Homo sapiens: one gene and its partner. The protein of the gene in region 2 interacts with the protein of the main gene of each other region in a pairwise test. Each region holds a gene or a part of one and is shown on either strand. Other genes may lie near its edges.

Region 1 (3,825 bases), on a different chromosome or scaffold from region 2:
AGTTGGAATGAAATTGGGGTTACAAATGTGTACGATAGAGGTTTTAGTAGATGAAATGGCCAAAATCAAGAGTGTAGTGTGTAGAATTTTCGAATTAGTAGGTGACCAACACAATGATTTATGTTTAAAAGTCTCTGGATTTGACTCTGCGTTCTAAGCTTTGTTAATTATTAAACTTGGGACATTCTGGCAATTCCCTGATAATTTTTAAAGCTGTCAGCAAATTTTAATCACTCCCTTTGGGATAAACAGAGACATACTGGGAGGATAGCTGGTTAATACATAACTTTCTTTTTTGATGTTTTAAAAGTTCCAAGATAGTTGTAGACTAACTTTTTAGAAATGTGTATGGTGTATAAATGAGTATGCACTGAAATCTCTTTTACCCAAGGGGCAGATCATCTCCAGAGACTTGGCAGAGCAATGACATCTCCCACATGGAACTGGACAGCAGCACGTTGCATCTGTCCCGCGTCTCTCAGTTTTAGTGTTTGGGTGGGTGGAACCATGGAAACTATCTTTTGCAATTCTGGAATAGTTCTTGTTCAATCCCCAAAATAAAAACTAAAAAAGGCAACTTGAAGCAGAAACAAGAAAGTTTTGGCCAGACTTAGGAGAGGAGATTTGGTCATTTGAGGGTGGCAGGCACTTGTTTGAGATCCCTGGAAGTGTTGGAACCAGACTTCCAAATTGTAACCAACACCTGGCAGGTGATCTTTGTGGCAGGGAGAGCAAGCCTGGCTGCAGGCTAGTGGTACTGGCTTTGGCAGGGAATGTCAGAGATGGCTCACAAGGGGTTATGAGTTGAGGTGTGTGGTGGGCAGATGTGGCCCATATGTTAATGGCAAAGCCTCTTTCTCACCTTTGGTGAAGAAAAATGGAGAACTTCCCTGGGCTCCTGTAACCCACTTGAATGTCCTAAAAAATAATAATTATATAGATATGCCTGAAAATTTGTATATCCTAGTCAAGGAAAGAATACACAGAGGTAATACAGCAATATTAAAAGAACATACGATTTATCTTGGAAGGTTGAGACGGGAGGATTGCTTGAGCCCAGGAGTTTGAGACCAGCCCTGGCAACGTAATGAGACATGGTCTCCACACACACACACACACACACACACACACACACACACAAAGGCTGGGTATAGAGGAGTGCACCTGTAGTCCCAGCTACTCTGGAGGCTGAAGTGGGAGGATCACTTGAGTCCAGGAGCTCGAGGCTGCAGTGAGCTATGATCATGCCATTATACTCCAGCGTGGGCCACAGACAAAGACTGCCTATAAAAAAAGACTGGGAGGGGGAGAATAGGCTTAGTGTCAAACACACTAGTTATGAATCTCATTTCTTATGCTTACCTATGTGGAACCTTAAAAGGTACATAACCTCCCTGTATTTCAGCTGCCTCATCTTTAAAATGAGACTCATAATGCCTTCCTGGCCGGCTTGTTTCAAGGATTGGAAAGAATGCACATGTAGGACCATAAACAGTGATCACTTCGGCTTTGGCTTATAGGTGCCTTACTCTACCTTTTTGGAAATATATCCTTGTTTGTCCTGTAGAGTTTTTCAATCTAAGGGAGCAAAAACAGGCATTTCTATGTAATCACTTCTTTTCACCAACCAATAATTTTTCTGGATGTGCAGCATAGATAAGGTGGCAACAGGACGCCATGTATACATGTGGGCATCAGGAGAGACTCGCCTGACTTCAGCCTCATCCTGGCTCAGCCAATTCCTTTATCCCCCCGCAAGGGGCCTGAGGAACTCAGGCTCACTTTGGGCTCTGAGACCCACTGGGTTCCGCTTCAGGAGAAATTCTGGAAGTCTTAGATCTGTACTTCAGCCTCACCTCAACCTGGCTATTATTCCAATTCTGATCTGGTCTTCATTTCAGCCATTTGATTCCTGTCTTAACTACAATAGAAGATAAATGCATTAATAACAAATGATATTATTTATTTAATAATATTATTTAATAATAAATGATAAAAAGGTAGCATATCAAGCGTTATCTACATGCTGTACAAGGTGTTAGGAGCTTGATTAGAATGACAAAAGCTCTGTGAAGGTTAAGAATGACAAAGCCTTGTTCTTTCTGCTTGATTCTAACACCCCTGGGACACAGTGTTGGGGCCGGTTGGTGGGCTGTGTGAGTAGAGCCAGTTGCCACTAGAGTCACAATTTCTAGGCCCCCATGTGTCCTCAGAAGTCACCAGGGCAGGTTTAAGGCTTGGCTTGGCATTGACAATGGTCACAATTTTCTTCTCCTCTGACTGGGTATTGAGGTCTAGGCTCCCTGCCATACATTCAGGGGCAGTGGTGGAGCATAGGGGTTAAGAGCATGGTGTCTACCCTGGTTCCACCACTAACTAGCTGTGCCACCTTGGGCAAAATAGTTAGTTAACCTTCCCATGCCTTACTTTTCTCATTTGGAAATGGGGATAATAATGGTATCTATTTCACAAAGTGGCTGAGAGAATTAAAGGAGAAAATACATGTAGAGTGCTTGGAATGTGGCTTGGCATTTGGCAGGCACACAATAGATATTGATGATTATTGTTCATCAGGCTGACAAAATGTCCACTAGCAACTAGTGGTCTGAAGTGCCAGTGTGCCAGCTTCCTCACTGTCAAACTTTGGGCTGAGGAAGTGGTTTGTGGCTGTGCATTTGAATGCACTGACACACACACACACGCGTGCATGCACACTCGGAGAACATTAGCCTGTAACAGAGATTCTGCTTCCAAGCCCTGTTTTCTTGGCTTGTATATGATTTACTAACACAGATGATGTGAGAAAGTCAGCAGCTTAATTTAAACAAAAGGCTTTAACTCTAATTATTTTAATATGTATTTTAAGAGATAAATATGTCAGAAACTATAAATGCAAAACATTTGTATACGAAGAGGAAGGAAGATAACACAGCTGTTAAACACAAAGGGCATTGGAGGCCTGGGACTTGGGCTCAAATCCCATCTGTTCCCCTAAATGTGGAGCTTGGGCAATAGGGGTGGCAATAGTAACAGGTTAGTTTTTTTGTGGAGTTCAATTACAGATGATTTTCATTTTTTTCCATTTTCTGTAATTTACAGATTTTCACAACAAATATGTATTATTTCTGCAACTCACGTTTCCAGAAACACCATACTCTTCCCTCTCCAAAAAAATTCCTCAAAGTATAAATCACCATGATGGAATGTGACTGCATCTTTCATTTATATCAGTGGCTTTTCTTCTTAAAAATATTTGAGGGAATTTTTGTTATTAATAAGTGTGGTTATTGGCCAGGCATGGTGGCTCACACCTGTAATCCCAGCACTTTGGGAGGCCAAGGTGGGTGGATTGCTTGAGGTCAGGAGTTCAAGACCAGCCTGAACAACATGGTGAAACTCCGTCTCTACTAAAAATACAAAAATTAGCCAGGCGTGGTGGCGCATGCCTCCAGTCCGAAGCTACTTGGGTGGCTGAGGCAGGAGAATCACCTGAACCTGGGAGGCAGAGGTTACAGTGAGCCGAGATTGTGCCACTGCCCTCCAGCCTGGGAGACAGAGTGAGACTCTGTCTCAATAAATAAATAAATAATTAATAAATAAATGTGGTTATTAATTCTTCAATTTATCCTTCTGCAAAAGATGCCCTGCTAGATATCAAAAGCTCTTTCAAAGAGCTTGTCTCTTCAATTTGTCTTGGTACTTCTTCAGCCAAGTTTCTTCAATTTTTCTTGGTACTTGAAAAGCGGGTGAGTGTTCCTGGGCTAACTCCTAGAATTCTCAATAAATGTTAACTTTGTTATTTGTACAAGTCACTGGGCAGTACTC
Region 2 (3,825 bases):
TAATAGCTAGAAATTTAACTCACCCTCTAAATAATTATTTTAGTTACCCTATCAATTGATTATAAATTTCTTATTTAACATTTAAACAGGAAGTCGATAACAAATTTTAAAAGAAACTGTACAGATTTTAGACAAGGTGTATTTTTATAGTAAAAGTCTTTTCAAGGACTCATTCTTTTGAAGACTATTTCTAATAAAAATAGCATGGTACGCCTTTTTAGACTTTCTCATTGAACCGTAACACAAGATTGTAAATTTTCCTATAAAGACACAAGTAGCCTAGAACACCATATTAATGAAATGTCCACTTTCTAACTTGCTTCAACTTGAGAATTTGGTTCTAATTGTGGCTTGCTTACCATCATGAGGCTGTATAACATAATGACTTCCTCCAATATAGTCTGCAGAGATTCCTAGTTGAGAAGCATCTGTTGTAGAACTGTCACCATCCATCTATGAGGAGAAAAACAGTTTTTCAATACTTTTCAAAGTACTAACAAACGTAACAGATTCAACACTTATAAACTGTCACAGGATGATGCATCAATTATACTTTTCATAGCCTTAAGCTTACTAAAAGAGAATTTATATTTCTTTTTTAAAAAATTAATTATTTTTTTGAGACAGGGTCTTACTCTGTGGCCCAGGCTGGAGTGCAGTGGCGTGATCACAGCTCACTGCAGAATCCACCTCCCAGGCTGAAGCAATCCTCCCACCTCAGCCTCCTGAGTAGCTGGACTACAGGCATGCACCACCATGCCTGGCCAATTTTTTTGTATTTTTAGCAGAGACAGGGTTTTGCTATGTTGCCCAGGCTGGTCTGGAACTCCTGGGCTCAAACAAACCACCTACCTCAGCCTCCCAAAATGCTGAGATTACAGGCATCAGCCACCGCAACCAGCCTATATTTCTTGATTTGGAAACTTTCCCACAATTTGTCCACGATTCAAGATTTCCCTATCCATCTTCCATAAGTGATATAAGCATAAGGCCAATAGCGACAAGGAAATGAATCTAAAGCATATGCCTCTTTCTTTTTAAGTGCATAATCTTCAAATATAGTACCACAGGCAACCCTGACTTACAACCTAATTTATCCCTGGAATGATGATCAGCTTAGTAAAGCTGTACACAGTGTCATGTACCTGTAGCCCCAACTGCTCAGAAGCTGAAGCAGGAGGACTGCTTGAGCTCAAGAGTTCCAGACCAGCCTGGTCAATGTAGTGAGAACCTGTCTCTTAAAAAAAAAAATCAGCTTAAGTCATCAACTGGAATTCACCTGTATCCATCACTTCCAGCTCTCCTGCTAAACCCTGATTTTCCTTTTGCTCCTGCTTGCGAACTTTCTTTGCTTTCTCATAGAAGTTCCAAAATAGACAATGTCTCCGTTCAAACTGTTACTTGGTATAAGAAGCATGCGGATTCTCTGCACAATTCTGTACCCAGGCAAGCCAAAAGTACACCCATGTTTTGAATGAACCCATAAACTCCTGATTCTAGTCAAAGGTTAATTTTCTCTCCCCCTGCCAAATCAGGGCCAGGTGTGGCTCATGCCTGTAATCCCAGAACTTTGGGAAGCCAAGGTGGGAGGATCACTTGGGCCCAGAAGTTCAAGATCAGCCTGGGCAACACAGTGAGACCCTGTCTCTAAAAAAAAACAAAAATTAAGAAATTAGCCAGGCGTTGTGGCATGTGCCTGTAGTCCTAACTACTTGAGAGGCTGAGGTGGGAAGATCACTTGAGCCTAGGAGGTTGAGGCTGCAGTGAGCTGTGATCACACCACTGCACTCCAGCCTCAGTGACAGAGTGGGGTCAGGAGGAGGGGTCAGGAAGATCTATGTATAAAGATAGGAAAATTACCTGCACAGACAAGAATAAGAGTTAAAATTCCTATTTTAAAAAAAGCCTGCTTAATTAATTTTGCTGAGAGCTAAAAGAATTCCAAGAGGGAAAGTCTGGAAAAAAGTAAATCATAAGCCCTGAGCTGGCTCCATTCAATTTCACCAACATGGCAGATCCTAGAAGGCTTTCTGTTTTGCAAATACTACTACTCAAAATAAGATATCTGTGAGTGAAAAAATGTTAAATGCATTATCTGAATAAAAAGTATAGCAAAAATCAAGTGTAATTCATACATACTTTCAGGCTGAACAAAGAAATTTGACCCTTCATTAAGGCCCAGGACCCAGTATAAACTTAATGTTATTAATTGCAAAATTTTAGTCCTTGTATAACACATGTCTTCTCCATCTCTGTTGAATTTTTATTTAATATTAAAATACTGGGCTAGTTTCCAGGTCTTCAATAACACGGCATTTCTTTCATGCATCTGTTGACTGTGATGCCTAATATAACTGTAGATAGAGACACATTTCTATAATTTATATAGTTGTTGTAAGGGGGTAGAAAATAGAATTTACAGACCTTTAATAATCTGTGAACATAGGGTACCTATTTGATACTTTTAGTAGCCTCTAAGAAGTAAACAACAAAGTCAGTGACCTGATTCTGACTCTCCTACTGATCCCCTGAAAATAAGCATCCCTGCCAATTAAATGTATTTCCATATAAAATGTAAATAACAATACCACCCTCCCCATCTTAAACTAACACAAATAAATGTGAAACAGTGCCCAAAAATCAAATGCTATTTTGATCTTAAAATGCTAACATACTAGGAGAGTATCCTTTAATAGACATGATGGATTTTTTTTTACAGCCATAAAAGAATGATCAATTATGATACCTGTGAGTTGACTAGCTTTTACAATAACCTAAGGAAGATCAAGGTGCAGGAGACAGGACCAAAGTGGTTGTTTCAGAGCCTACAATTGGAAACAAACTTTGGTTGGGGGTGGGGAGGGCAGGCGGTGGGTTGGGAAGAATAACAGAAATTCTTTCCTGAATGAGTGTTTACATGATACCATTAAGTCTTTTAAAATTGGCTATGAGCAAGACACTGTTCAAATAACCAGGCGGATCTGGGAGATGAATTAATTTAGAAATATAACACAAACAAAAGTATTAAAGGAAAAAAGTTTAAATCATATTATCTTGTCATGCACTGGAATTAGCAACATGATTATCATTTGGACTAACAGCATTAGCCTCGCTAAACCTCAGTCTTCTAAAAGTGAAGATAAAAGTATTTCCTAGAGTTGTCAGAATTAAATAAAGACTAGAAAGCTGCTAAAGACAGTGTTTGGCACGTAGTGTACCCCACAGACATTCGATCTCATCCTCCCTCCTTTGAAGAGAAGCCGCACATCATCTGCTTAACTGTATGTGTCTTCAGTTCTGCAAGTTTTAGCTTTCTATCATTTCACGCCTTCTGTCTTCCTTTCCTCTGTCTTTCTACCATTAAAATCCTGCCCCAGACTTTAATCCCAGTGTTCTCTATCCTCCTTTAATCTTTCTGATTTATCCTTTCTGCAATTCAAAAACAAATGTTCTGTTCTTTAAAGCTCTATGGCACTTAGTACCTTTCACTCAATAAGTCAACCTAATCTTTGATGCTTAGAATATGCCAGCCATTCGCCTATATATAAGAATGATGGAAAAAAACTTGCTAGATGCATCCCAAAGGTTTTTTCTAGGTCTAAAACATCCTATAAAAACTTATAAAACAGACTGTAGATTGTCAGTAAGCCAGCCAACAAATATTTACTGAGTGAGCGCTTAGTATTTACCAGGTTCATGCTATGTGCTGGTCACGTAGCTGTCAACAACAGACAAGGTCTCTGTCCTCAGCTTGCAGGACAAATGTTACATAACCTGGGAGGCAGGGTGAAGGGGTAGAGAACAGAGCCTATTAGTCCTTCCAGG

What was found.
Region 1: the proteins of NFYB (region 2) and MAOB interact in a two-hybrid assay, tested with the Homo sapiens proteins (one large-scale study listed by BioGRID and IntAct).

What each region holds. Positions count from the first base shown.
Region 1 is NC_000023.11:43,875,724-43,879,548, reverse strand, and holds part of MAOB (amine oxidase [flavin-containing] B), read left to right. Parts: intron 1-3,825.
Region 2 is NC_000012.12:104,128,065-104,131,889, forward strand, and holds part of NFYB (nuclear transcription factor Y subunit beta), read right to left. Parts: intron 3,775-3,825; exon of another isoform or gene 3,699-3,774; coding exon of another isoform or gene 3,690-3,698; intron 2,826-3,689; exon of another isoform or gene 2,747-2,825; intron 454-2,746; coding exon 360-453; intron 1-359. UniProt on the Homo sapiens protein: Component of the sequence-specific heterotrimeric transcription factor (NF-Y) which specifically recognizes a 5'-CCAAT-3' box motif found in the promoters of its target genes.